Linked DNA regions of Homo sapiens: all the other regions are reported to be linked to region 1. Evidence: microRNA targets listed by miRTarBase, many of them from high-throughput screens and not tested one by one. Region 1 holds a microRNA gene; each other region holds the end of a gene's coding sequence. Distances are between the middles of the regions.

Region 1 (7,122 bases):
TCTGACAGTCTGTGATCTCCCCTCACTGCAACCTCCACCCTCTGGACTGGGAACGTCAGGGCACTGCACCGATGCAGGCAGGATGAGCCGAGGGGAAAGGAGAGCCAGGCATCACTGGCTGGGGACATTTTGGGTTTGATCTGGATGGAGCAGGTGTCTCCTGGAGAGAGAGCCCCTGGGATTTTCACTCTGCTCCCTGGCTGTCTTAGTCATGGAATCTGACAACAGAGACTCCTGCCCAGGGCCACTTCATTTGGTTTCTGGACCCCAGTGGTCCTTCCTGCCTGGACTTAGGATCTTTTGGGGAAGTTTGGGATCTGGCAGGGCATCTGCATAATCCATAGAAATCCCTGAGAGTCACTTCCCTTGGCTGACATCTCCATGTTCCTACCCATTACCTTCCAAAGGAGACCCTTAACTGAATTACCAAAGGGGGCTTCCCAGAGCAGGGAAACCCGGTTAACTTTCTATTTCAGGTCAACAGTATACTTGAGATGTACTTGAACTAGAAATGATTGGTTGTTTAGGTGTGGGCATTTGTTTTTCCTAACTTAGTCTCCAAGAAAAAAAATTATTGAGGTTTTACAGCCTAGCCTGTGGTCTATCCTGAAGAATGTTCGTGTGTGTGACAATGTACATTCTTTTTTTCCCCCCAGCTCTGTCAAATCTTACTGAGGAGCTTTTACGGCCTAGCCTGTGGTCTGTCCTGGAGGGTATTTGTGTGTACAACAATGTATATTCTTAAACATTATCTTAGATTCCATTTTGGATGTTCCCATCAGGACTGTGTGTTTCTGTGCTGGAACTCAAGTGAACACTGGCTCAACATCCTTAGAAATCCAGCCCAATTCTCTTGGTTAAAGATAAGGTATGTGTGGTAGGCATTGCTTTTTCTCTTTGGGGACAAAACTCAGGAGGATTGCCCCTTGATGAACAAGGCTAACCTGCTAAGCCTTTGAAGCAAGGAACTGGAGATGGTCCTTTCAGGGGTTTATGTTCTGGATTCCATAAAACATGCAAACAGGGGCAATGAATGCACCTTTTTTATTTTTATTTTTATTTTTTTTTGAGATGGAGTCTTACTCTTGCCAGTCTGGAGTGCAGTGGCACGATCTCGGCTCACTGCAACTTCTGCCTCCTGGTTCAAGTAATTCCCCTGCCTCAGCCTCCCGAGTAGCTGGGACTACAGGTACATGCCACCACAGGCGGCAAATGGTTGTATTTTTAGTAGAGACGGAGTTTCACCATGTTGGCCAGGATGGTCGTGGTCTCTTGACCAGCCTCCCAAAGTGTTGGGATTCCAGGCGTGAGCCACCGCGCCTGGCCAATGAATGCATCTTTATTTTTGTGTTCATTTTAATCTGGTAAGGTAAATTCCAACAAAAAACCCAGAGTTTTGGAGTGAGAAGATCTCATGCAGTCATTCTCCAAAAGAAAGCACTTTCTGTTGTCTGAAAGCAGAGTGCCTTCTTTTGGAGCGTTACTGTTTGAGAAAAACCACGTTGAAGTTGATGCTGATCTTGGTAACACATTTGCAGAGCGTGCTTATCATCAGACTTGCATGATGTTGGGGTTCTGTTTTTGTTTAGTTTTTTTGCAACACAGGGTCTCTTGCCCAGGCTGGAGTGCGGTGACACTTCCAACCTAGACCTCTTGGGCTCAGTTGGTCCCTGCCCCCACCCCCTCCCCCTTTTTTTTCTCTTGAGACAGTCTCTCTCTGTGGCCCAGGCTGGAGTGCAGTGGTATGTTCTCTGCTCACTGCAACCTCTGCCTCCCGAGTAGCTGGTATTACAGGCACATGCCACCACGCCTGGCTAATTTTTGTATTTTTAGCAGAGACGGAGTTTCATCATGATGGCCAGATTAGTCTTGAACTCCTGACCTTAGGTGATCCACCTGCCTCGGCCTCGCAAAGTGCTGGGATTACAGGCATGAGCCACTGTGCCTGGCCCACAACGTATATTCTTAAATATCATCTTAGATTCCATTTTGGTTGCTCCCATCGGGACTGTGTGTCCCTGTGCTGGAACTCAAGTGAACACATGGCTCAAAATCCATTGCTGTTCTCTAGAAATCCAGCCCAATTCTCTTGGTTAAATATAAGGTATGTGTGGTAGGCTTTGCTTTTTCTCTTTGGAGACAATACTCAGGAGGGTTGCCCCTTCGTGAACAAGGCTAACCTGCTGAGCCTTTGAAGCAAGGAACTGGAGATGGTCCTTTTAGGGGTTTATGTTCTGGATTCCAGAAAACATGCAAACAGGGACAATGAATGCATCTTTATTTTTGTGTCCATTTTAACCTGGTAAGGAAAATTCCAACAAAAACCCAGAGTTTTGGAGCGAGAAGATCTCATGCAGTCATTCTCCAAAAGGGAGCACTTTCTGTTTGAAAGAAAACAAAGTGCCTCCTTTTAGAGTGTTACTGTTTGAGAAAAACCACGTTGAAGTTGATGCTGATCTTGGTAACGCATTTGCAGAGCGTGCTTATCATCAGACTTGCATGATGTTGGGGTTCTGTTTTTGTTTAGTTTTTTTGCAACACAGGGTTTCTGTTGCCCGGGCAGGAGTGCGGTGGCGCTTCCAACCTAGACCTCTTAGGCTAGTTGGTCCCCCCTACTTTTTTTGTTGTTTTTGTTCTTGAGACAGAGTCTCACTATGTGGGCCAGGCGGGCAGGCAGTGACACATTCTCTGCTCACTGCAACCTCGGCCTCCCAAGTAGCTGGTATTATAGGCACGTGCCACCACGCCTGGCTAATTTTTGTATTTTTAGCAGAGATGGAGTTTCACCACATTGGCCAGGTTAGTCTTGAACTCCTGACCTCAGGTGATCTGCCCGCCTCTGCTTTCCAAAGTGGTGGGATTACAGGCATGAGCCACCCTGCTCGGACTGCAGGGTGTTTTTTTTTTTTTTTTTAATTATTATTTGTATTTTTTTGTGCTGCCAAAGCAAGCACTTGTGTGTAGGAATTTTGTTTGTTTGTTTGTTTGTTTGTTTGAGATGGAGTCTCATTCTTGTCGCCCAGGCTGGAGTGCAGTGGCATGATCTCGGCTCACTGCAACCTACGCCTTCCGGGTTCAAGCGATTCTCCTGCCTCAGCCTCCTGAGTAGCTGGGATTTCAGGTGCATGCCGCCACCCCGGCTAATTTTTGTCCTTTTGGTAGAATCGGGGTTTTGCCATGTTGGTCCGGCTGGTCTCAAACTCCTGACCTCAACTAATCCACCTGCCTCGGCCTCCCAAACTGCTGGGATTACAGGCATGAGCCACCGCACCCGGTGAGGAGTTATTTTTAATGTGAGCAAACAGTATATTCTTTTTTTTTTTTTTCATAGACAGGGTCTCAACAATATATGATGTATATTTAATCATATAGTCTTATCATGTATATAATGTAGTCATATGTACACCAAACCCTGTTCTACACACGGAGAATACTCTTGTATCACTTTGGGTATTTATTTACTTGTTTCTTTCTGTGTTTTTCTTGTTTGTTTGTTTGTTTTGTTTTGAGACAAGGTCTAGCTTTATCACCCAGGCTGGAGTGCAGTGGTGCCATGTCGACTTACTGCAACCTCCACCTGCCACCTCAGCCTCCTGAGTACTTGTCTACAGGTGCGCACCACCACACCCAGCTAACTTTTCTATTTTTTGTGCATAAGGTTTCACCATATTACCCATGCTGGTTGAGCTCGAACTCCTGAGCTCAAGTGATCCTCCTGCCTTGCCCTCTTTAAGTGCTGGGTTTATTGGTGTGAGCCACCACGCCCCACCCATACTTGTGTATTTCTGTATTTATTGAGGAGCTTATACAGCATACCCTGTGGTCTATCCTGCAGGATGTTTGTGTGTGAGACAGTGTATATTCTTGAACATAGTAGATTCCATTTTGGATGCTCCCATCGGGACTGTGTGTCCCTGTGCTGGAACTCGAGTGAACACTTGGCTCAAAATCCATTGCTGTTCTCTAGAAATCCAGCTCAATTCTCATGGTTAAATATAAGGTATATGTGGTAGGCATTGCTTTTTCTCTTTGGGGACAGAACTCAGGAGGATTGCCCCTTGATGAACAAGGCTAACCTGCTGATTCTTTGAAGCAAAGGACTGGAGATGGTCCTTTTAGGGGTTTATGTTCTGGATTCCAGAAAACATGCAAACAGGGCCAATAAATGCATCTTTTTGTTTTGTTTTGTTTTGTTTTTGAGATGGAGTCTCGTTCTGTCACCCAGGCTGGAGTGCAGTGGCACAATCTTGGCTCACTGCAAGCTCAGCCTCCTGGGTTCACGCCATTCTCCTGCCTCAGCTTTCCAAGTAGCTGGGGCTACAGGTGCCCACCACCACGCTAGGCTAATTTTTTGTATTTTTAGTAGAGGCGGGGTTTCACCCTGTTAGCCAGGATGGTCTTGATCTCCTGACCTCGTGATCTGCCCGCCTCGGCCTCCCAAAGTGCTGGGATTACAGGCATGAGCCACTGCGCCCGGCCCCAATAAATGCATCTTTATTTTTGTGTCCATTTAAACCTGGTCAAGGAAGATTCCCACAAAAAATCCACGGTGCTGGAGCAAGAGGATCTCAGGCTGTGACCCTCTAAAGGGAAGCGCTTTCTGTGGTCAGAAAGAAAAGCAAGTGCTTCCTTTTAGAGGGTTACCGTTTGGGAAAAGCAATGTTGAAGTTGATGCTGATCTTGGTAAAATATTTGCAGAGCGTGCTTATCATCAGACTTGGATGATGGTGGGGTTTTGCTTTTGTTTTGTTGTATTCCAAGACAAGGTCCCTGTTGCCCAGGCTGGAGTGCGGTGACACTTCAACCTACATTTCTTGGGCTCCGGTCGTTTTTGTTTGTTTGTTTGTTTGTTTGACAGGGAGTCTCACTGTGTGTCTCAGCAATGCAGTGGCACTATCTTGGCTCACTGAAACCTCAGCCTCCTGAGTAGCTGGGATCACAGGTGCGTGCAACCACGCCCATCTAATTTTTGTATTTTTTGCATTTTCAGTAGAGACGGGGTTTCACCGTGTTAGCCAGGATGGTCTCGATCTTCTAACCTCGTGATCCGCCCGCCTCGGCCTCCCAAAGTGCTGGGATTATAGGCGTGAGCCACCGCGCCCGGCCGAGAAACTAATCTTTTGAGATGAACTCTGAGATGTGGATTTTAGCTTGTTTGCAGCCACCACCACTCTAGTTTTGGAAGATTTTCATCACCCCGAAGAGGCTTATACTCATTTGCAGTCAGTACCCACCCACCTCTTCCACCCAGACCGTGGCAACGACTCCCCATCTCTCTAGCTCTGGATCTGCCTCTTGTAGGCCGGTCACGTAGACCAATCTTGTATGGGTGTCCAGTTGAGGATAATGGGTTGGTCCTGGTTGTCTGCAATGTGAATCTTACCACTGAAGGGTGGTCCCTGGAGGGAAGCAGGAGGCTGGGAGAACTGGGCGGAACATCCTTTGGGAATGGAGTGGGGCGGGCAGACCCTGATGTCTGGGAAGCTCACAAGGGTGGAAGACCCCATCTTCCTCCCTGAGAACTGCAAGGTGACCCTCCTGGGGCACTGGAAGGAGTGAAGGCCTCTGGGCTGGGAACGTCAGGGCACTGCACCGATGCAGGCAGGATGAGCCGAGGGGAAAGGAGAAGCAGGCATCATTCTCTGGGGACATTTTGGGTTTGATCTGGATGGAGCAGGTGTCTTCTGGGAGAGAGAGCCCCTGGGATTTTCACTCTGCTCCCTGGCTGTCTTAGTCATGGAATCTGACAACAGAGACTCCTGCCCAGGGCCACTTCATTTGGTTTCTGGAGCCCAGTGGTCCTTCCTGCCTGGACTTGGGATCTTTTGGGGAAGTTTGGGATCTGGCTGGGCGTCTGCATAATCCATAGAAATCCCTGAGAGTCACTTCCCTTGGCTGACATCTCCATGTTCCTTACCCATTACCTTCCAAAGGAGACCCTTATCTGAATTACCAAAGGGGGCTTCCCAGAGCAGGGAAACCTGGTTAAATTTGTATTTCAGATTAACAGTATACTTGAGATGTACTTGAAGTAGAAATGATTGGCTGTGGGTGTCGGCATTTGTTTTTTCTAATTTTAAATATGGGACCATCATGAATTTGGGTGTCACTTTGTGCAGGGGACGTGGGAATCGCTGTCATTTTTTTTTTTTTTTAACATATGCTGCCAGAGAAGGCACTTAGGTGGAGAAATTACTCTTCGTGTGAGCATTCAGTATATAGAACTTCCTTTTCTGGGGGCAGTGTCTTATATATGATACACATTTTATCATATCATCTTCTATAGATAATATAATGATTAACACAAAACACTCTTCTACACACACAGAATACTCTTGTATCACTTTGGGTTTTTTTTCCTTCGTGTGTGTGTGTGTGTGTGTGTGTGTGTGTGTGTGTGTGTGTTATGAGACAAGGTCTGGCTCTGTCACCCAGGCTGCAGTGCAGTGTTGCAGTCTTGGCCCATGCCCCACCGCAGCCTCTGGAATAGCTGTCTGCAGGCCAGGCACGGTAGCTCAGGCATGTCGTCTCAGCACTCTTGGAGACCAAAGCAGGCTAATCACCTGGAGTCAGGAGTTTGAGACCAGCCTGGCCAAGATGGTGAAACCTCATTTCTACTAAAAGTACAAAAATTAGCCGGGCGCGGTGGCTCACGCCTGTAATCCCAGCTCTTAGGGAGGCAGAGGCAGGAGGATAGCTTGAGCCCAGGAGTTTGAGACCTGCCTGGGCAATACAGTGAGACCCTGTTCTCCACAAAAAGAAAAGAAAAAAAAGAAAAAAAAATTTTAAAAATGCAAAATTAGGTGGGCATCGTGGCACGTGCCTGTAATCCCAGGTACCCCAGAGGCTGAGACAGGAGAATTGCTGGAAACCTGGAGGCAGAGCTTGCAGTGAGCTGAGATCACGGCCCTGCACTACAGCCTGGGCAACAAAGTGAGACTTGTTTCAAAAAAAAAAAAAAAATTTATTGAGGAGCTTTTATGGCCTAGCCTGTGTTCTATCCTGGAGAATGTGTGTACAACAGTGTATATTCTTAAACATCATCTTAGATTCCATTTTGGATGCTTGCATGGGGACTGTGTGTCCCTGTACTGGGACTTATGTGAACACTTGGCTTCAAAT
Region 2 (7,122 bases), not on the chromosome of region 1:
GTTTTGACACTGTTAAGAAGTTATAAAGGAATGTTAAATTATTTAAGATATTTCAAAAAAGAATTAAGAATGGAAGAGTAAATTCTGCTGGAAAAGATAGGGCAGCTTTACAGTCTGCAAAGTAAATAATCTACAGAGATGCAGCTTAACTTTTTTTTATTATAATAAACATACTTATTTCCATAAGGTGCTGTGACTTTGCAGCTAGTGCATACTAATGCCACCCACTGTACCCAATGTGCAAAAGGAAATAATGGAGATGGCTAACCTCCAGTTTTCTGATCCTTGATTTGCATAAGTGGTGATGTACACCAAATACACAAAAGCTGGAGTATAAATATTTATTTTTAAAAATTAGGCCAAACTGAATATAGATATTTAATCTGGTTTCACAAACTCTTAAAATAATTTTCTGAGGAAACAATGATGAGGAATGTGTAGGAAAGGCAATGTTTCTATGCTAGCGGTACCAAACCTGGAACTTTAAGTATCATTTTTTAGCTCATTAACTATATAGAAGATTACTAAGACCAGTAAGGGAGCCATTTTCTTCCCCTCCTCTATTTTTATTACTTATCTCTCTCCTCTTTACTCTTAAAATTGGCAATCTTCTGACAACCCAAGCTAATAAAATAATATAGCTATATATAATTCAAATAACTAAAGAACTTTTGAGTCCATATATGCAGGATTTTTGAATACCTCACTACATTTGCTCTTATACCCTCACTGTCCTGGTATCATAAATATTATTAAGGGAAGATAACTTAGAAGGGGAAAGCAATTCCAACCTGGGATAAAAAAGTGATTACAAATAATTATCTTGTTGATAGTAAGGGCTTATGGTAACAAGTAGCTCTGATTTTTCACATAAAGATCCCCCCCCAAAAAAACAAAATACAAACAATTCCAGTTTTTTTCCCCCAGAATGTGACTTATTTCCATTATACAAAGCAGTATAACAAAATAAGCTCTCTTCTGCACAAAAAACGATTAATGGTTTATAAGACAAATAAGTAGAATGCTTCTCTTTGCCTTTAAATTAAAATACTATGAACCTAGGTAACAAAACATACATGGCTTTCTTCAAAAGGGCCACAAGATTTCTTCTGGTTATTGTGACAGCTACCCAATTTAATGGGAAATAACACTCAAGCAGTCATTTGGTAAGTTTCCCATGAATTTCAGCATTTACAGTGCCACAAACACAACTGCCACAATTATGACAACTCTCTGAAAAGCACAAATAAAGCAAATTTAAAACATTAATCCTCATAAGCAGTACAAGGCAGAACAAAAGTGCTGAGTGGTAGGAAAATGAATAAAAATTTCCTATCAGGAGAATAAAGTTTGTGTAAACTATCTTATATCCTGAAGATCACTTTAATGACCACCTATAAAATACAAAGTTTCCTAAATACTCTCTGATTTATAGATATTTCTCTTACAGTCCACTGCTCCTATAAAATTACAGCAAAAAATATTAAAATTATTTACCTTCTTCTTAAATATCCATGGCACTTGTCAAGTACATGCTACTGTGAATCTACTGGTCATTATATAATTTAAAAATAGTGAAAAACATCTGAGGGAGGTGGCTACAATAACGAACATGACATATCCTATAGTATTAGGCAGAGAAGCTATCCTAAAACAAAATGAAACAAAATCTTTACAATTCTGGGTACTCCAAAAACTAAAATATCCATGTTCTTCTGTGATTAAGAATGGGACTTATCTTAATATACCACAAGAGGCTCAGCTCTGTATGATGGAGACAACATTTTTATATTCATCAAGAAAGCTAGTAAGTAATACTAACTTGAAAAACTACCATCTCAAAATAAAGGTGATTGACTGAGCACCTTAAGAAATGGGGATTCTTTTGAGCTAATTGTGACCAAGTACTTGTCTATATGTGACCATAATTGACAAGAAATGAAATTATATCACAGAGCTACAGTAGTAAAATTTGATGAAGGAACCTGATATTAAAAACAGAACTAGAGATCCAAGGAAGAATTAAATTCTGCCAGACAATTCTGGCTTTTCCATCATATATAATATTGGAATAAAATCAAATATGAATAGTTTTACATATACAAAAAAATAAGGTAAACCAAGGCTATTTCCAGGCAGACAGTGAATATATATATGAAAAATAAAACAAAGGTAAACCCAGAAAATTTTGGACTTTTATACTATCATATGTGACTCAATCTAAAAGTTACTCCAGGAAAAAGGCAGAAGTGCTATTAATTATCATCATCTGGGAAGCTTTCACCCAAATGAGTTTTAATATTTTCCAGCAAACACAAGGCACTTGCTTAAATCTTTATCTACACAGCCATCAGACTCAAAGTCATGATGTGATTCCAATGTACCCGAATCTGAATAAAGCCACCTAGCATGTACCCCTGCATAAGTGTCTAGGTAAATAGATGGTTACTGAGTGTCTCCCCTACTCCTTCACCCAGTAACTATGTTGTTACAATTACTATCATTTACAATGGTGCTGATTTTCATTAAATTAACTGTAAAAAAAAAAAAAAGTCATGCTGCCAAGTATACTGATAGTAGAACTTATGTGTAAGATAGGCCTAACAGTCAGAAAATAAGACCTAAAACAAAAAGATACCCAAATGTTAGTTATCTGCATGATAAATTAACTAAAACAAGCCATGAAACAGCATCTGATAAGTGCTCTAACTCCGCCTTTTATTCCAGAAAAGTAACTGATGCCCTTACCAGAGTGAAGGTCCAGTGTAATAAGACAGAAAAAAGCCTTCTGCCCATGGTTTCTCTTCAGCTTTCTCTATATGGCAGCATTCCTTATAATAAACTTGCTCAATAGTTAAAATATAAGCAACATGAATCTAGAAGACAAGTTAAATAAGTATTTGGAGATTTTCTTTTAAAAAATAATTTAACATATCTCAGCACTCTTTAGCAGCTGGAGTACCAAAAAGAAGGCAATATTTCTCTCAATAAAAACAAAGAGAAGTTCGAGTAAAACCATACTTATGGTTTTTGTTCTAAAAGCAGCCAGTTTGGCTCAAGGCATAGCAGAAAGGGAATCCCTCTAAAGAGAGCTGCTATATTGGTGGCCACAAAAAAGGAAGACATCCAGTGGTAATAAATGCGGATCTCTTATTGCAAGAGAATAGTTTTAAAAATTCCTTTAAAAGGCAGTCAGTACTTTTAGTTAATGCTGTCTCTTACTGAGGTGTCCAACTCTACTTGTTTTTGTCCTGTAAATACAGCATTAGTTTTGACAGTGGCTAGCTAGCTACCCCCTCCAAATATATTTCAAAAGAATCAAGTATTTCCCACAAAATAATCACTGTATGTGCCTTTTCTGGGTGTACAATGTGCCACAGTAATACCCCAAAGAAGTAACTGGGAAGGTGAGAGGCAAGGAAGCACAGGTATTAATTTAGGGAATGAAACACTACCTGAGACAAAATTTGCCCAAAAGGGTAGGGGTTAAGTGACATGAACCCTCACCTCTTTACCCTTTCTCTCAAAAAGAAAATTTCTAGGTCTTTCAATAACTTCAATAAACCAAAATCCCTATGTATATATTTCATCCTAATCATGAAACTTGTATCTTTTGATATTTGGTTCAGGTTTAAGAAAGATAATATCACAGGAGGGAGGGGTAATCTGCTAATGTGATCTTTGGTAGAACGGGCTAAGAGCTATAAAATAATTTCAATCACAGGAGGCATTTCTTTTTCAATTCTCTGGCTTTAATATAAAACATCTAGCCAGGTGTGGTGGCAAGCGCCTGTAAACCCAGCTACTGGGGAGGCTGAGACAGGAGAATCGCTCAAACCTGCGAGGCAGAGGTTGCAGTGAGCCGAGATTGAGCCACTGCACTCCAGCCTGGGCAACAGAGCAAGACATCATCTCAAAACAACAACAACAACAACAAAAAATCTAATTAAATGCATGGTTAATTCAAGGCTCATCAATTATTCCCTCAGCTCCCTTAAAATCTAGTAACCATCTTCTGTAACAAAATTCTACAGTGTCAAGCACTAAATATATGTATGAATGTATCAGCAATAAGATGACAATCAAAGAATGCTGTGAAGATTGGCATCAAGATGTTAGCAGCATACTGCAGGACTAGGCTTAGAAGCCTACCTGCAGTTTATTTGTAAGGATTTTTCTTTTGGGGGCGGAGGGGAGAGAAAAGTAAATGTGCTAACTTAGGATACTTGCCCTTATAAAGAATTCCTTTGTATCCCATGTTCATCGTATTTAAGGACCTGATGTTTCTAATCACCACAAAATCTGCTACCCATATGAACATTTAGGAAAGTTTAGGTCTTCACAATACGGGTTCTGCCCACTTGAATTCTGACTTGAAAACAAACCAATTTATAATCAACTCCTGAAAGGGCCAAAATAAAAAATAATAGTTCTTCCTTCTAAGGGCATGTATTGGGGAACATGCCACAAGACCCTTTGGTAATTCATAAATCAGCCTCCTTATGCCAAATTTGGTTTCATAATAAACATTAAAGGAGAGTCCTGAATTTGACAATTATAAATAACTAAAATGTCAAACAATAATTGTTTGAATGGGGTAAAGTATTTCATTCTGTAAAATGCAAATTCTAACTGGACTCTCAGCAACCTGCATGGCAAACATAAGGAAATATGAGGAGGCTTCCAGCAGGGAAAGATAGAAGACTTTTTCCTTAGGAAAAAATAAATAAATAAAAAAATTAATAACCTGTATATAACTTGTCTTTTTTTTTTGGTATAATCAGTGCTTCATAAAGGCATCCTAATTTTTATATCTTTAAAGACAACCTACCATGAAATAAGAAGAATCCATAATTATAATTCTAAAAACCATGTAATCAACTTGTGTCCATGAACTCACGCATAGCAGCATCCTCTACTCAGGGACACATTATGTTGCTATGAATCCTTTTAAGAATTCTTTGAGTTTTTCTTCCTTTCTACTTCTACCTCATTATATCTACACCTTTCTTAACTACCTTGCAGTCAAAAGCCAAACTACCTGGGATGCTGCTCCTCTAGTTTGTCTTCAGCTAAGGATAGAGGCAAAGAATGAGGGAAGGGGAGGAAAAAGGGAGCAGGGATACGAGAAACAGAAAGGAAGAAAAAAGAATCCTTTTATTTTCCACCCTCTCTTCGCCCATTTTTTTTCTTTTCCCTTCACTGTACATCTAATTCTTTTGACCCACTTCAATTTTCATCATAGTAGGTAGAGCCACATCTTGAGAAACCTTAAAACTATAGATTTACTACAAAAAAGATGAGCTAATACAAAGTCTAAAGTAAACTAAAAGAGGGGTTGATTTACATCTGGCACAACTTAGTCTTTGTTCCAATCATTTTAGAAGTCTCAATTTAACTCCAGGCTAGACTCCAGTTTGTTCTGGGCCTCTCAGGAATTATGTTTTGTCATTTACATTGTATCAGACAGACTACCTCTCAAAAAATGTATATCTTAAATCTTACGGATGTGAAACAGGTAGGGAAGAAATAAGTATAGACTGTATTAGCTCACAGGATTCACACTATAAAGTACACTGACTCAAATTTTCTCTAATCATTCATACTCGCACATTCACTCAAGCATACATACTAGACATAAAAATTGTGCAAGATCAAGCATCAGCTTTCTATTTTAAAAGCCTTAATTTAAAAAAACTTAGATAGGCTCACTGCAGTTCCTTTAAAGGAATATTCAGTACTACAGTACTGCTTTAAGAAAAAATTCACAACTCAGTGTTAAGAACACAGTAGGTAACTGCTGCTTGACAATTACTTAACATTACTGAGAGCATCCAGTGCCAGCTTATGGATATCAACAATAAGGAAGAACCACTGGACAACATAAAGAAATAATCTGTAAATGATGTCACCAAACCTAACAAATTTGTTAGTATTTACCAAGACATGATATTATTCATCCTTGCTTCATGATCCATGAAATAATTAAGATTTTTTTAGGCTACATACTGAAGAGCAACACCTGCTCTCCCGCACAAAAAAGGGTTGCCCACATGGATGCTCTAAAACCCCTCAATGTATAGCTGAGAGGTCTTGTCCTACTCAGTGCCAAATGTATGCAACGCAGTCACTGCTTGGGCAATGGCTGCACATTAGTAGGATTAAATAAATGTATAAAGTACCTTCTTAAAATGGTAAGGGGGTAGTCCTGCATTCATATGTGGAATAACCCAAGAAATGGAAGAGGAGAAAAAGGAAACAGTCCTTAGGTTACTGATTAAAGCAAGGTTTGATACAGATATCCCCTCTTGTAGGCACTCAGCGGGTAGAATGTAGCCACAACAAACTTCCCATCAAACATCCTTCCAGTCAGTAATTTCTGCGCAGCTTTGGAATCACCAGCATTTGCATACTCAACAAAGACCTGAAAGAAGACAGAGAAAAAAACATTTCATTTCCACCAAGATTGTTTTAGACCAGTGCTTTACCACCTTTAATATATATACATCAACTGGAGATGTTATTAAAATGCAGATTTTGCTTCCTTAGGTCTGAGATGTCGCCTGAGTTTCTGTTCTAAACAAACTTCCAGGTGATGCCAATGCTGCTGGTCTATGAACTATACTTCAGGACAGCAAGGTTTAGAATACTTCCTCACAACTCAGCTCAACTTTGAAAAATCTCTCAAGGACAAGTTGTGTGAATCATGTACAATCTTTTGCTAAGGTCGTTACAGGAGTGATGAATAACACTAGACATCTGCCAAAGATACGGCTGAATAGCTCAGACAGCAACTGCATTTCAATGGTACCTGGATGATAATCTGTACTTTTAGCAGTGAAAAAGGAAAAAATATTGGTCAAAAGCTGCTGGAAATTGCACCTATTAGGAAGTACAATTTGGCTGGGTGCAGGGGCTCACTCCTGTAATCTGAGCACTTTGGGAGGCCAAGGCAGGTGGATCACGAGGTCGGGAATTCGAGATCAGCCTGACGAACACGGTGAAACCGTGTCTCTACTAAAAATACAAAAATTAGCTGGGCAAGGTGGCACACACCTGTAATCCCAGCTACCCAGGAGGCTGAGGCAGGAGAATCACTTGAACCCGGGAGGCGAAGGTTGC
Region 3 (7,122 bases), 52 Mb from region 1:
ACTGCGTCTAAAAAATAAAATAAAATAAAAATAAAAATAAAAACAGAGTGGCCGGGCACGGTGGCTCACACCTGTAATCCCAGCACTTTGGGAGGCTGAGGTGGGTGGACCCCAAGGTCAAGAGATGGAGACCGTCCTGGCCAACATGGTGAAACCCCGTCTCTGCTGAAAATACAAAATTAGCCGGGCGTGGTGGCACATGCCTGTAGTCCCAGCTATTTGGGAGGCTGAAGCTGGAGAATCGCCTGAACCCGGGAGGCGGAGGTTGCAGTGAGCCCAGATTGCGCCACTGCACGCCAGCCTGGCGACGGTGAGACTCCGTCTCAAAAAATAAATAAATAAATAAAAATAAAGCAAAAAAAAAAAAAAAAAGATTAAAAGAGTGAAGGTTGAATTCAACAGCCAGGTCCCCCACTTCAGGCCAAGTGACTTTGCCCGGAGAGTGGGCATCGGGGATGGCACCAAGAGGGAGCAGAGGGCCTGCCTGGTGGGGTGATGAGCCCGTTGGGCAGATGTGCACCCTGAGGGCGGGCGGCACGTGGGGAGCCCAGTGGGGTTCGGGCGGCCGCTGAGCGTGCTGTCTCTGCCACCCGCAGACGAGACCCTGTACGAGGCTCCTGAGCCCATCTTCACCAGCAATAACTCGTGTAGCAGCCCGGGCGGCTGCCGCCTCTTCCTCAGCACCATCCCCGTGCTCTGGACCCTCCTGGGTTCCTAGTCCCAGCCCCGCAGGACGCCGACCCTGCCTGGACGGCCCCGCCTGGACCGCCTGACCTCGGCCCTCCGGACCCGGCTGCGGCCCCCGCCTCCGAGACCAAATAGAGACGCTGCTTCTCCCTCGCCTGGTGCCGCCCCCGCCGGGCAGGGGCCATCCACCCGCCCCAGGACCAGCCCTCAGGGAGGGGAAACGGCCGAGAGCCCCCCCCCGGAGGCCCGAGGGGCCGGGGTGTGGATGCGGACCGTGGCCAGGCCATCTCCTCTGGGGCGTCGGAGAACCCGGGAACCTCTTGGCGATTTTTTTTTTTTTTTTTTTTTTTTTTTTTTTTTTTAGTGTATTTTTCGTGGTTGGATCAAAAAGACTTGAGTTTTTAATTTAATTTATTCCCTGCCGTTGTAGCGGGGCGGGGTCCCTGTGCCCTGGCCTGGGGGAGGGGAACGCGGAACATGGGGTCGGGAACACAGCCGCTCCCCTCTGCTCTGCACCCCACTCGTGGGGGAACACAGCCGCTCCCCTCTGCTCTGCACCCCACTCGTGGGGGAACACAGCCGCTCCCCTCTGCTCTGCACCCCACTCGTGGGGGAACACAGCCGCTCCCCTCTGCTCTGCACCCCACTCGTGGGGGAACACAGCTGCAGCCCACCGCGGACCCCCCTGGTGCTCCAGGTTGGGTGAGTCTGAGCCGGAAGGGGTACGTGGTGGGCGCCCCTCATTGTGGCTGGGGAGACCTCATACCCCATCGCCCACCCCCGTCCTCCTGGTCATTTCCTCCCAGACACTGTTTTGCCCCAGCGCCCTTCGGAATCACAGTCCCGCCGTGTCTTAGAAACTGCTTTGGCCGATGCAAACAGCCCCCTACCCGTCCCCCTCGCCTCACACGGTCCCTCTCCGAGGCCGAGAAGACCTTCTGTTCCTGTAAATACAGCCAGCAAGTGCAAACTGTGATTTTATTTTCCACGTATTCCTGAGGACGGACTGGACCGTCTATGTTTTTTCAGCCCTTCATAGGGGGTCTTTTATTTTGGTGGGGGGGTGGGGTGGACTTTTAGAGTAGAAGCTGCACTTGGCAATAAGCTCGTGTCGTCTGTCAGAGCCCCTCTCTCAACTCTGTGACCTGATAATGTTTCTAAGAAAAAGAAAAAAAGGACAAAAGGGAGGGAACCACTACCAAAAAAAAAAAAAGAAACTCCTCCCCGAAGACACTTTAATGAAGGAAACAACACATTTATACGGATTTCATATTTCTACCCGCCTTTCCTGACTCTGTGTTTTATATATATTATATATAAATATATATTGTGTACGGCCGCCGGCCGGCGGCTCGAGGCACGCCCGGTGGTGGGGGGTGGGCAGAGGGCTTTTGTAGGGGGTCGGCGGGGCGGGCCGCGTTGCCAGGCCTGGAGCTGGCGACCGGGCCTCCCTCTTCCCGTCACAATCAACTTTGGATTCTGTATTTTTTTATAATAAAATGAGCATAAACCTCAAACGCGTGTGTCTGTATGTGGGGGCCTTGCCCTACTTGAAGGAGACTTTTGCATTCCTAATTTGGCGGTGGATGCTGGGCGTGGTGGTTTACTCCTGTGATTGCAGCACTTTGGGAGGCCGAGGCGGGCAGATCGCTTGAGGTCAGGAGTTTGAAACCAGTCTGGCCAACATGGTGAAACCCCATCTCTACTAAAAATATGAAAAAAAAAAAAAAAAAAGCCAGGTGAGGTGGTGCACGCCTGTCATCCCAGCTACTCGGGAGGCTGAGGCAGGAGAACCTCTTGAACCCGGGAGTTGGAGGTTGCAGTGAGCTGAGATCGTGCCTTTGCCCTCCAGCCTCGGCAACAGAGCGAAACTCTGTCTCAAAAAGGAAAAAAAAAATTAGCTCGGCGTGGTGGTGCACAACTGTAGACCCAGCTACTCGGGAGGCTGAGGTGAGAGGATGGCTTGAGCCCGGCAGGTGGAGGCTACAGGGAGCTATGATCACACCACTGCACTCCAGCTTGGGCAACAAAGCAAGACCCTGCCTCAAATAATAGTAATAGTAATAATAATAATAATAATTTAGAGGTGGGTCTGGAATCTACTGGGGAGAGGGGTGCGGCTTCGAGGAACCTCTGGGGATCCCCAGAGCTGTGAACCTGACTGATTCTTTGGTTCTGTGCATCGTTTTGGGGTCAGACCTTGGGATGAGCATTTTATAGGGCCCGTATCCTTCATAGCCATCCATGGGCTTCAGTTTCCCTCTCTGGGAAGTAGCAACAGCCCACCTAGGGCTGGGAGGGGGCAGCTGGGAGGATGGAGGGAGGAGACGGGGCCTGTGCATGGCTGGCCCTGGGGACACCGCTGGCCGGCACACACCTGAACATGGTGGAATTCCTGGGCCTCAGGATCCAATCAAATGTTGTGAAATCTCCACTGGCAAGCTCTGCCTCTGTGTAACTCAGTTTCCCCACCTGCTCCAGGCCAGGGCAGGGGCTCTGTCATCTCCTAACCTCTTCCCCTTGCAAACGGCACATCTGTAAGTTCTCGGGTCCCAGGGGCCTTCATGCCAGGCACGCCCCGATTGAAGAAACTGAGGCACAGAGAGGCTGGGGGTGACGCGGCAGGTGACCCGGCCCAGGGGACTGAGGTCTTTACGGCTGGACGATGGTCGCCTGCATCCCACCCGCCGTGACGACGGCGTCTCCGGCACAATTAGCCGAGCGGGAACGCTCCCAGCTAATTAATTCAGCTGCGCTGGGCCCGGTGACGGGGGCCGCCTCCTAATGAGGCAGCCCAGGCACAAAGACCCCTGTGTGTGCCCCGCCCCGCCCCTGCCCAGCGCGGGGTGGACGCACGGAGGCACAGAGGGCCGGCCGGCCACCGTGCTGAGCACCGCGGGGGAGGCTCCACCATGCCCCACTCCACAGAGGACCCCGAGGCTCAGAGAGGGAGGCGACCCCCACAGCCCATTCATGCCGAGACCCCCACCCCAAACTGCAACGTGACCACTGGGACAGAGAGGACCAAGGACAGAATGAGATCAGGGATCATGAGAGGCATCCCAGTGCTGACTGTGATGCTGTTACAAAAACACAATAGTGTCCTTCCCTCCATTTTAAGTACAATTGCATGGATTTTAGTGCATTGAGACTTGTGCAGCCATCAGCTCTGATTCCAGAACATTCCATCACCCCAAAAGGAAGCCTTGTCCCCATCAGCCGTCACTCCTTATCCCCTCCCCTGGCACCAACGTATCCCCTCCTTCCCTGTCTCTGTGGATGGGCCTGTCCTGGACGTTTCATGGAAATGGGTCACACACTGTGTGGCCTTGCGTGTCTGGCATCTCTCACTGAGTGTGACGTCCTCAAGGTGCATCTGCGCTGTGGCCTGGGTCAGAGCCTCGCTCCTTTTCACAGCTGAGCACGTTCCGGTGCGTGGAAGGACCACGCTGTGTTTATCCAATCATCTATCCAGGGGCACTTGGGTACTTTCCACCTTTTAGCTATTATGACAATTGTTAAAAATACAATTTATTATTATTATTGTTTTTTGTAGAGATGGGGTCTTGCTATATTTCCTGGCTGGTCTCGAACTCCTGGGCTCAAGTGATCCTCCCGCCCTGGCCTCCCAGAGTGCTGGGGGTGCCAGGCATGGTAGCTCACCCCTGTAATCTCACCATTTTCAGAGATTGTCTCTAAAAAACAAAGAACAAAAACTCACAAGCCAAACTTCTTGTGATTACAGAAGTGAGCCACCACGCCCAGCCAAGATGCTTTTTTTAGATTTATTATTTAACTCTGTATTATTTATTAGAGACGGGGTCTCACTCTGTCGCCCAGGCTGGAGTGCAGTGGTGCGATCACGGCTCACTGAAACCTCTGGCTCCTGGGCTCAAGCGATTTGCCTCCCGCAGCCTCTGAGTAGCTGGCACTACGGGCATATTGTGACAATCTTATTATTTTTGAGACAAAGTTTCAATGCAAAAGGTGACTTTGCTTTTTCGTTTTTGTTTTTGTGTTTTTTTGAGACTGAGTCTCTCTGTCACCCAGGCTGGAGTGTAATGGCACGAACCCGGCTCACTGCAGCCTCCGCCTCCCACGTTCAAGCAATTCTCCTGCCTCAGATTCCCGAGAAGCTGGGATTACAGGTGTGTGCCAACTCGCCCAGCTAATTTTTGTATTTTTAGTAGAGATGGGGTTTCACCATATTGGCCAGGCTGGTCTCAAATTCCTGACCTGAAGTAATCCACCTGCCTTGGCCTCCGAAAGTGCTGAGAATACAGACGTGAGCCACTGCGCCCAGCCTAAAAGGTGACTTTGGGTAAATACACAAAGAATGGCTGAGCTCCTGCCTCTGGGCCTTTGCATGCACTGTCCCCCCAGCCCACCCCACTGCCCCGATGAACCTCTCTTGCAGATTGCAGCCAGGCTCCCCCACTCAGCCCCTTCCAACTCAGCTCAGATGTCACCTGAGCTCCTGGCCAGGAGGCTGTGGGTGCCCTTTGTGACTGTTTACTTACCTGACTCCTCCCCAGGCTGCAGCCGCTAAGGGCAGGGCTGGGTCTGTCCTGGTTATCGCCGGGACCAGTGCTGGGCCCAGAGCAGGGAATCTCCTGGGACCGTGTCATTGGCCACACGCAGACACGTGTACACACACACACGCGTAGCCCTGCGCTTGCACCTCCATGCCTGTGTACCCCTGTGTCGCCAGACACATGTGTTTTGGGCCCGAGCCTCTCAGGAACTGACCTCCACTCCCGCGCCAGACCCTGACCAGACCCTGGTGCCTGTCCCAGTGGCTGCATCAACGTGTCGAGTGGCCACTCACTCCAGGGGCTGTGCTGGGATGTCCCCGCCGGGTGTGGGCGCTCCTTGGGGAACCTGGTTACCCCCGACCCCAGCCCCAGTGAGACCCCAATGCCGGCTCCTGCCAGCCCTGGACGGCCATTGGTACGCTGGTCCCGCGCAGAGTCTTTTCCGCCCAGAGGATCCTGAGGGAAGTCATCTCCCTCCTGCCGGCCAGTTACTGCCGCCTCGGTGCCCGCCGCGGGCAGGGGGCAGCGGGAGGCTGCTAGGGGAAAGGAGGCCTGAGGCGCCCAAAACTCTTGAGTGCGGCTTGGGGTGGAACGTGCCGCCCCCCACAGCCCCGGTGGCCCAGGGCAGGGCTCTGCATCCCCCCAGACCTCACCACTGAGCCTCAGTGTGCCTGTCTACATCTGTGTTTGAGGAGAAAACCCCTTGGTCCCCACCCTCTGGTCCAAACAGCCATGATGGAGGGGGGCTCACTTTTTTTTTGCTTTTTAGAAATGGTGTCTCATTCTTCACCCTCAAAACTGAACGGAGGCTGGGCATGGTGGCTCCTGCCTGTAATCCCAGCAATTTTGGAGACTGAGGCAGGCTGATTGCTGGAGGCCAGGGGTTCAAGACCAGCCTGGGCAACAGGGTGAGACCCCCACCACCACCATCTCGGCAAAATAAAAATTAAAAAATTAGCCAGGCATGCTGGCACGCACCTCTGGTTCCAGCTACTCGGGAGGCCCAGGGGGAAAGATGCTTTGAGCCCAGGAGGTTGAGACTGCATTGAGCCATGATCACGCCACTGCACTCCAGCCTGGGTGACAGAGCCAGACCCTGTCTCAAAAAACAAACAAACAAAAATACTGAACAGCTCACACCAGTAATCCCAGCACTTTGGGAGGCCAAGGCAGGTAGCTCACTTGAGGTCAGGAGTTCGAGACCAGCTTGGCCAACATGGTGAAACCTTGTCTCTACTAAAAATACAAAAATTAGCCGGCCGTGATGGCAGGCGCCTGTAGTCCCAGCTACTCGGGAAGGCTGAAACACAAGAATCGCCTTGCAGGGATCCAACAGCCACATGGCAGTAATGAGAGGCTCCAGAAAAGAAAAGAAAACAAAACAAAACAAAAATAAGAAAAACAAACAAAATAAGGAGAAGAAAAAAAAAAGAAGCCCCCCCCCCCACCATCCCCAGAGGCCACAGCACTCTGTCCTCTGGTCCCCCAACCCAGCCCTGACACCTGCTTCTTCCCCAGGGCACCTCTCACTCACGGGTGTTCCCTCTTTGCCCTGGCTGGCACACCCTTCCCGAGTCTCCTCTGGGCTCTCCCCACCTTTTTTTTTTTTTTTTTTTTTTTGAGATGAAATTTCGCTCTTGCCGCCCAGGCTGGAGTGCAGTGGGGCGATCTCGGCTCACTGCAAGCTCCGCCTCCCGGGTTCACACCATTCTCCTGCCTCAGTCTCCTGCGTAGCTGGGACTACAGGCGCCCACCACCACGCCCGGCTAATTTTTTGTATTTTTAGTAGAGACGGGGTTTCACTGTGTTAGCCAGGATGGTCTCGATCTCCCGACCTCAGGTGATCCGCCTGCCTCGCCTCCCAAAGTACTGGGATTACAGGCATGAGCCACCGCGCCCG
Region 4 (7,122 bases), not on the chromosome of region 1:
TCCTAACATTTTGGGAGGACGAGTCAAGGATTGCTTGAGGTCAGGAGTTTGAGACCAGCCTGGGCAACATAGGGAGACCTTGTTGGCACAAAAGAGTTAAAATAAAAAATTAGCTGGGTGTGGTGGCATGTGCCTGTGTTCCCAGCTACCTGGAAAGCTGAAGTGGGAAGACTCCTGAACCTGGGAGGTGGAGGTTGTAGTGAATCATGATTATGCCACTGCACTCCAGCCTGGGCAACAGAGACATCATCTCAAGAAAAAAAAAAATTCAACATGAATATTAAAATCTAGTGATTCAACTGCCTCCATGAAGAAAGTCCACAAAACAAGAAACAAGAAGGAAGAGATGATGAAATCACAGAAAGAAAAAATATGAGCTTAGGAAAGGAGTTATACAAAAAGAAAAATACACACTGTGGGAAACCAAATGAGTACAGGTAATAAAATGGAGAAATGCAATGAAATGGAAGTAAAGAAAAAAGTTAAACTGTTCTGGTAATGGGAGATGAGATAATTCAGAACAACTTCACACTAAGAACTGGAGAAGCTGGACAAAACATTTATTTTAAAAATTCTGCTTGAACACTGAAAAGCCAGTAAGATGATGAAAAAATCTTGGGCCAAAATTCAGGAGATAGATATGCAGGGGTGAACCTGACATTTGGGGTCAATTTTGCCCAGATGCCATTTAAAAATCTGGAAAACAGACTGAGGAACCAATCATAAGTTATGATGTCCTCTTGGGGAAGGCAGAAAACACTGGCACATGGGATCCACCAAGAATGGAGGCTCTTATGAACCCTTGTACTTTGGATCTAGACCTCAAAGTCTGAACCCTGGGAATGACAGTGAGCTACAAGTGCCCATGCATATACTGCAGCCAAGATGCGAGTCATCTGGGGATTCAGATCATCTTAGTTCCTAAAACAGGATTAAGATGTTTTCAGTCTGACAGTGACCCCAGAAGCAAAAAAAACTTGTGTCTGGACAACAGCATCTTAGACCTCCACTTTTTTTCTACAAACAACTTTGCAAACACGATTTCGGCATATAGTGAAAGATAACCAGACCTAAGAGTAGGGAAGAAAACATGAAAAAGAGCCAACAGAAACAACACACAATAGAAACAGATTCTGAATTGGCATTAAATATTGGAATTGTCACACATACACACGGAAGTTAATTAACAAGTCTAAAACATGGATATTTTGAGCAATAATGAGTTATAACCCATGAAATAAAATAGGAATCTATGAGTTTATACTGACATAAATAAGTGAATAAAGGAGAAATAAATGGATAAGGGAATTCCAGTAAGTGTAGAAAAAACAGTGGAATTAGAAAACCGGCATTTGGCAAGCATTACAGCAATACATATGAAATACATAGGGATAACTGATTAACATTAACATCGTTTTCTCTTGATGTTTACATGGTGTCTTTTTTCTATCCTTTTACTTTTAAAGCTCCCTATGTTTTAGGTCAGTCTCATAAGCAACATGTAGTTGTTTTTCTGTGGTTTGATAATCTTTGTCTTTTAATTGGATACTGAATGTTTTCATTTAACATAATTTGTGAATACATTTGGGCTTACATCCGTGTGTTTTCTATTTGTCTCACCTGTTCTAAATTGCTTTTTCTCTTCTGCTTGCCTGTTTTGACGTGATTGAATGCCTTTTATCCTTTTATTATTACTTATTACTTTTGCTTTCAAATGAAATTCCAACTTCATACATAGCCTACATATTCTAAACTTCAATTATCTGAGCACCAGTAATTTCTGTCCTATTTCCACACTGACTACTTAATTTGTTTAGTTATTAACATTTATTCCAAAAAGAAATGTTATATTGCCACAGTAAACTAAAACAATCAGTACCACTTGCCATGCAAAGTAACTAGAACATACAGAACTTGTTTTATACTCTACTGTGGGAAACACTTCCATATTCCACAAGGCTTTGCCAAGATATATACCTACACCACCCCAAATGGTAGCCATTAGCCACATACAGCTATTTAAAAGTAATGACAAAATTTTAAAACTCAGTTTCTCAGTCACACTGGCTATATTTCAAGTGTTTAATACAAGCCACATGAAGCTTGTATTGGCCATTTTTTGGGGGGCAGCATTTACAGAACACTTCCATCATTGTAGAATATTCTGTTGAACAGCACTGTTCTAGACCTTCTCTCTAGCAACCCCCATCCCCTCCACCCAGTGGTGAGCCATAGTAGTATTTTCGTCTTGGAATTCACCAAAGCTCTTTTCCTAGGCCTTTGCATATCCCCATCCCTCTGCCTGAAATACTCCTTCCCCTTTTGCTCTTTGCTAGCTTCTTTTCATTTTTTAGGACTCATCTCATACGTAAGACCTTCTTGATAATCTGAAGTAGTACCCAACTCCCAATCGCTACACTTATTTCTCATCTCAGTCATTTGGTTTTTTCTTTAATTGCAATCACTGCAATTTACATTTTATTCATGTCTATTTACTTCCCATCTTTACCTAAGCTACTCCAATTGTACTTCTATCACAGTATAACCAGGTGGTGGCTATCGGCTGTAATCCGAACACTTTGGGAGACTGAGATGGAAGGACTGCCTGAAGCTGGGAGTTTGAGATCATCTGGGCAACATAGTAAGATCCCCCCCCCACCTTTTTTTTTTTTTTTTAAACTTGAGACAGGGTATCATACTGTTGCCTAGGCTAGAATGGAGTGGCGCCATCACAGCTCGCTGCAGCCTCAACCTCTTGGGCTCAAGCAATCCTCCTGCCTCAGCCTCCCTGAGTAGCTAAGACTACAGGCACGTGCCACCACACTTGGCTAATTTTTGTATTTTTTGCAGAGATGGTGTCCCACTTTGTTGCCCAGGCTGGTTTTGAACTCTTGGGCTCAAGCAATCCTCCTGCCTTGGCCTACCAAAGTGTTTTTTTAATTTTTCTTTTTAAAATTAGCCAGTTATGATGATGCACACCTGTAGTCCCAGCTACTTGGGAGGCTGAGGTGGGAGGATCCCTTGAGCCCTAGAGTTGGAGGCTGCAGTGAGCTATGATCCTGCCACTGCACTCCAGCCTGGGGGTCAGAGAAAGACCCTGCCTCTGAAAAAAAAAAGGGCTGGGCATGGTGGCTCATGCCTGTAATCCCAGCACTTTGGGAGGCCAAGGCGGGAGGATGGCTTTGAAGCCAGGAGTTTGAGACCAGCCCAGGCAAGACCCCATCTCTATAAAAATAATTTAAAAAAGAAAAAAAAATATGAAAGAAACAGCTCAATAAAGTTGAGAAAGTATGTTTACAGATGCATGTAGAAAGTTATTTAATAAAAATATTTCACCATTTAAACTTGGATTCCCCAGAGTGTCATTCAAAATACTGAAATGGAAAGATCAACAAAATTAATGAATAAAGAAAGTTTATTGGAGATTATTAAAGAAAAATGATAAAATAAGGCAAGTCCTAGATCAGATTTAAATACAATATTTAGAAAGATGGCTATATAATTTTAGCTAGGAAAATCAGTAAAAGGGAATATCCTTAAAAGTGGGAGGGGTTCATATAACCTTTTAAAATAGCAAGTTGAGGTGTAAAAGCATCACCAACAATAGTATGTACCTTAATCTTTACACAATTGGACAGTGAGGAGCAAAGTGGGAGATTCTACCAATGCCACTTACAGAACAGATTTTCAAGTTAATAAGTCATAAAATCCTAATGTAGTCATAGGCTAGGATGGTGACGACAATCTGCAATTACTGGTCAGAGTGAAGCGAAGTGACAGGTCAGATTTTTCAGCATATCAAGTTACTACTTAGGTATGCTTACAAAACTTTGTTAAATAAAGTTGGGTATTGTTAGTATACCCTTTACTAAATGGTGAGGATAGCTGCCAAAATAATCAAAAGGCTAATTATGTGTTAACTCTCATTTATTTTGGATTGCAGACATACTCTTGCCCTTTATCTATCTACACAATTCCTTATTACCAGCAGCTGGAATCCAGTTGTGCAATTATGGCAACTGGACAGACCTGAGCCGTCAGTTATGAGATAGATGACCTTTTAATTGTACTAGCAAACAATTTATAGACTGGAAGATTGTTTTTCGGGAATACCAGTTTAACTGAGACTTTAATTATGGTCCAAGAGCTTTTATGAGAAATTCAATCAAAAATTTTGCTTTAGAAAAATTTTATAGGTATATGTTACTAATACTGAGAATGGTTGAATTAAAAGAAATTGAGACTGAACAGTACATTTCCACTGGAAACATAAAGCTCTGAATGCTGTGACTGAGTGAACAAAGGAATAGTTCTAAATTTTCTTTTGCAACATACATAACAAAAAGATTTCAAACTGAAAGACAACAGGTTTAACTGAATGACAGATTTAACTACATAGTTTTCATTCTATAAATAAATAACTTGTGAAATATCCCTGAAGTCAGTGGACAAATGGGGAAACCATTATTTTTGTCATATTCTACAATTCTGAGAACTAGGATTAGAAATTCTAGGACTTTAAATCTTTGTGCTACAGAGAACAATATTATCCACTAAAATCAGGAAGTGGCTTCCTGAAGGGTATTCATTCTCTGAGGTCATACATTTTTTTTTTCTTTATTCAAAACACTTAGTAAAGGAAAAGGACACAAGGAAATTCTGATTAAAGTCTTCTCCTGCTCTGTTTGCAATTATACATGCTTTCAAAGTCATTTGAAAGTAAGACCATTTCCTTTGGCAGGTATCTTGTATAAAGTAACTTTACAACATATGTTTCTTGAACAGAAACTTTACACCACTGTCATTATGTTACCTATAGAGACAAAACTACTAACACAAGTAATATGGGCTTACAATTATAACACAAACCTGTGAGAGGGCATGATAAAATTAAATTTTGATTGCCTTCTTTTATTATTATCACTACTACTGTCTGCTCACAAATTCTGTGGCCAGAGTCCATTTCAAATCCTTCTAAGAGTCCACTTCATGAGTTAAACATATACATATAGAACAAAGCAGGTATACTGTAATTTTTAAAAGTAAATCTGTTTTACATAGTACAGCTGGAGGCAGTTTAATATAATCAAAAGTTATAGCTCTAAAAAATATGATAGTAGAATATTAAACCTCAGGTTACGTTAGGTTTGTTAACTCTTGATTTGCTTTGAGTAATTTTTTTCTTCAAAAGCCACATTCCAAGAAGATGCCTTAAGTATCAATGAGCTATATTTGAAGTACATCAACTCTGTTTAAAGCTGTCCAACAATAAGGACACAAGCAGTAAAATATCTGAAGCATGAAACATGTAATGTTGATGACTAATGTTCTAGATCATCAGGAATAAGATTAACGAAGAGCAAAGTAAATCTAAAACAAGGAAAGGGAAGATACATTTATTAAAAATAAAAATAGTACACAATCTCTGATAACAAAAAAAGCATTTAGGGTCAAAAGACATCCAACATACATTGTAACAATGCACACATATTAATTAAAAAAAAGACCCATGAAATAATTTTTAAAAAACTTTCAAAAGGAAAAAACTATTTTGGCTTCCTTCTGCTGAAATTCGCCTATAAACATACCACGCCAGCTAGACCAGCATTCCCTTTCACGTGGTCTGTACAACATAGTACTGCACAATGTGAGCAATTACTTTGATGAACACATTGTTTTTGAATAAAATTGTTGGTTCTGTATGGATGATCCAGACATAAATCCATGGTTCCATTTCACAAAAATATTCATAGGCTGGAAGAGCAGTGACAACCATTTTCCAAAATCTTCAGTTTTAACAAAAGGCGCAGAATAAACTACTAAATCTAGATGTTTTCACATTATTTTGCATGAGTGTCAAATACTATGTAAAAATTAACGTAAAATCTTAAGTTGGCCAAAACTAGTGTCTCTAAAGATCAAAATTCTTCACTCTTTTAGCATGGCTGATAAATCTTTTCTGCCTTTGTCACTAATGCTTGTCAAACCAAAGAACTTTGCAAAAGAATATGCACTGCTGAAGGAAGACAGTACCAAAAATACCATATTGAACTTCGGTCTTAAGACACACACAGTTCCTGTTGGATACTGGACTGTGAAAGTTTATTATCTTCAGTCTTTTCATGTCCTGGAGCATGGCAAGTAGTCTTCCGCTTAAATAACCGAAGACTCAATCGAAGTAATTCATTGTCTACCATTGGAGCACTCGTGTAAGCTTGTTTTATGGTGCCCTATTTGAAGAAAACAAAAACAAACTTTAAAAAAGATGTACATTATTAGTAGGAAAGATGGGCAGGTTAACCTCTACCCAAAATATCAAAGTTATAAGAGTATTTCATTTTGGATATTAAATTAGCTTTATTGGATTTCAAAGCAAAATTAGAAAATGTGTTTGGGCTCAATGAATCTTTGAAAAGAAACTTTTAGAGGGCACCTAGTTTAACCTCTTGCTTAAAGTAGGAATCCTCTCAACAATTTCTGACAGGTAATCAACCGGTTTTTACTTTATCATTTCCAATGACAAAACAAACAAAAAACACACTGCACGTTCTGTTGTTGAATGGCACTATTTCTTCCATGTGATGGAATAAAAGCTCTTCTATGGTGCTACACTGTAATTCAATCTTACCTTTACTTGACAATCCTTCAGTTCTATGAAGGTAAGTGCCATGAGTTCCTTCCTCACATAGTTTTTCCTTCTGTAAGCCAAACATTCTATTCTATACTCCTTACCAATCTTTCAATGTCCCATAAAAAGTGAGCTCGAAAACTGAATAAATCCTTTAGAAGACAGCTAATCATGCAGTATGCTGAAGAACTACTACCTCCCTTATACTAAAATATGTATCTATATTATTGTGACTTAAAGTTACATTAGCATTTTTTGGAAAGTTATTGTCATAGAGAAGGGACCAGGGAATGTTACAAAATACAAAACAAAGAAAAGTGCATACTGAAATCAGGGAGCAAAGGAGAATGACTGTAGTGATTCTGTCAAAAGTAATCTTGAACCAGACTTTTAAGTGAGGAAAACTTGATTATACAGTCAAGACATGTTTTAAAAATCTCCTGTTCCTCGTATTTGTTTCCATTTTAATCTTTGGAGATAAACTCATTCTTCTG

Evidence for each region. The annotated mature microRNA hsa-miR-520f-5p reads CCUCUAAAGGGAAGCGCUUUCU and lies in region 1 at 4,581-4,602, shown strand. An mRNA with a match to its seed (bases 2 to 7 or 8) in the 3' UTR can be bound and repressed. Matches are read on the target gene's strand: a 7mer-m8 pairs with bases 2 to 8, a 7mer-A1 pairs with bases 2 to 7 and ends in A, and an 8mer does both.
Region 2: the mRNA of UHMK1 is a reported target of hsa-miR-520f-5p. Seed matches in the 3' UTR shown: 7mer-m8 at 6,061-6,067, 7mer-A1 at 5,590-5,596 and 7mer-m8 at 3,081-3,087.
Region 3: miRTarBase lists EFNA2 as a target of hsa-miR-520f-5p. Seed matches in the 3' UTR shown: 7mer-m8 at 1,763-1,769.
Region 4: miRTarBase lists ZC3H13 as a target of hsa-miR-520f-5p. Seed matches in the 3' UTR shown: 8mer at 5,909-5,916 and 7mer-m8 at 5,100-5,106.

The regions. Positions count from the first base shown.
Region 1 is chr19:53,677,593-53,684,714 of GRCh38, forward strand. MIR520F (microRNA 520f) reads left to right here and starts at 4,567; the gene lies at 4,567-4,653. MIR515-1 (microRNA 515-1) reads left to right here and starts at 1,411; the gene lies at 1,411-1,493. MIR519E (microRNA 519e) reads left to right here and starts at 2,348; the gene lies at 2,348-2,431. The region is part of intron 2 of LOC107985342 (a long non-coding RNA gene); the gene reads left to right. RefSeq lists an enhancer at 103-603.
Region 2 is chr1:162,521,706-162,528,827 of GRCh38, reverse strand. UHMK1 (U2AF homology motif kinase 1) reads right to left here. Exons shown (of 8, transcript NM_175866.5): 8 at 1-6,424. The coding sequence ends at 6,278. Among named protein-coding and RNA genes, the nearest start is that of UHMK1, 27 kb to the right of the region's middle.
Region 3 is chr19:1,299,228-1,306,349 of GRCh38, forward strand. EFNA2 (ephrin A2) reads left to right here. Exons shown (of 4, transcript NM_001405.4): 4 at 597-2,204. The coding sequence ends at 718. Among named protein-coding and RNA genes, the nearest start is that of EFNA2, 17 kb to the left of the region's middle.
Region 4 is chr13:45,951,068-45,958,189 of GRCh38, forward strand. It overlaps ZC3H13 (zinc finger CCCH-type containing 13), which reads right to left. Exons shown (of 19, transcript NM_001330564.2): 19 at 3,398-6,230. The coding sequence ends at 6,060. Among named protein-coding and RNA genes, the nearest start is that of ZC3H13, 98 kb to the right of the region's middle.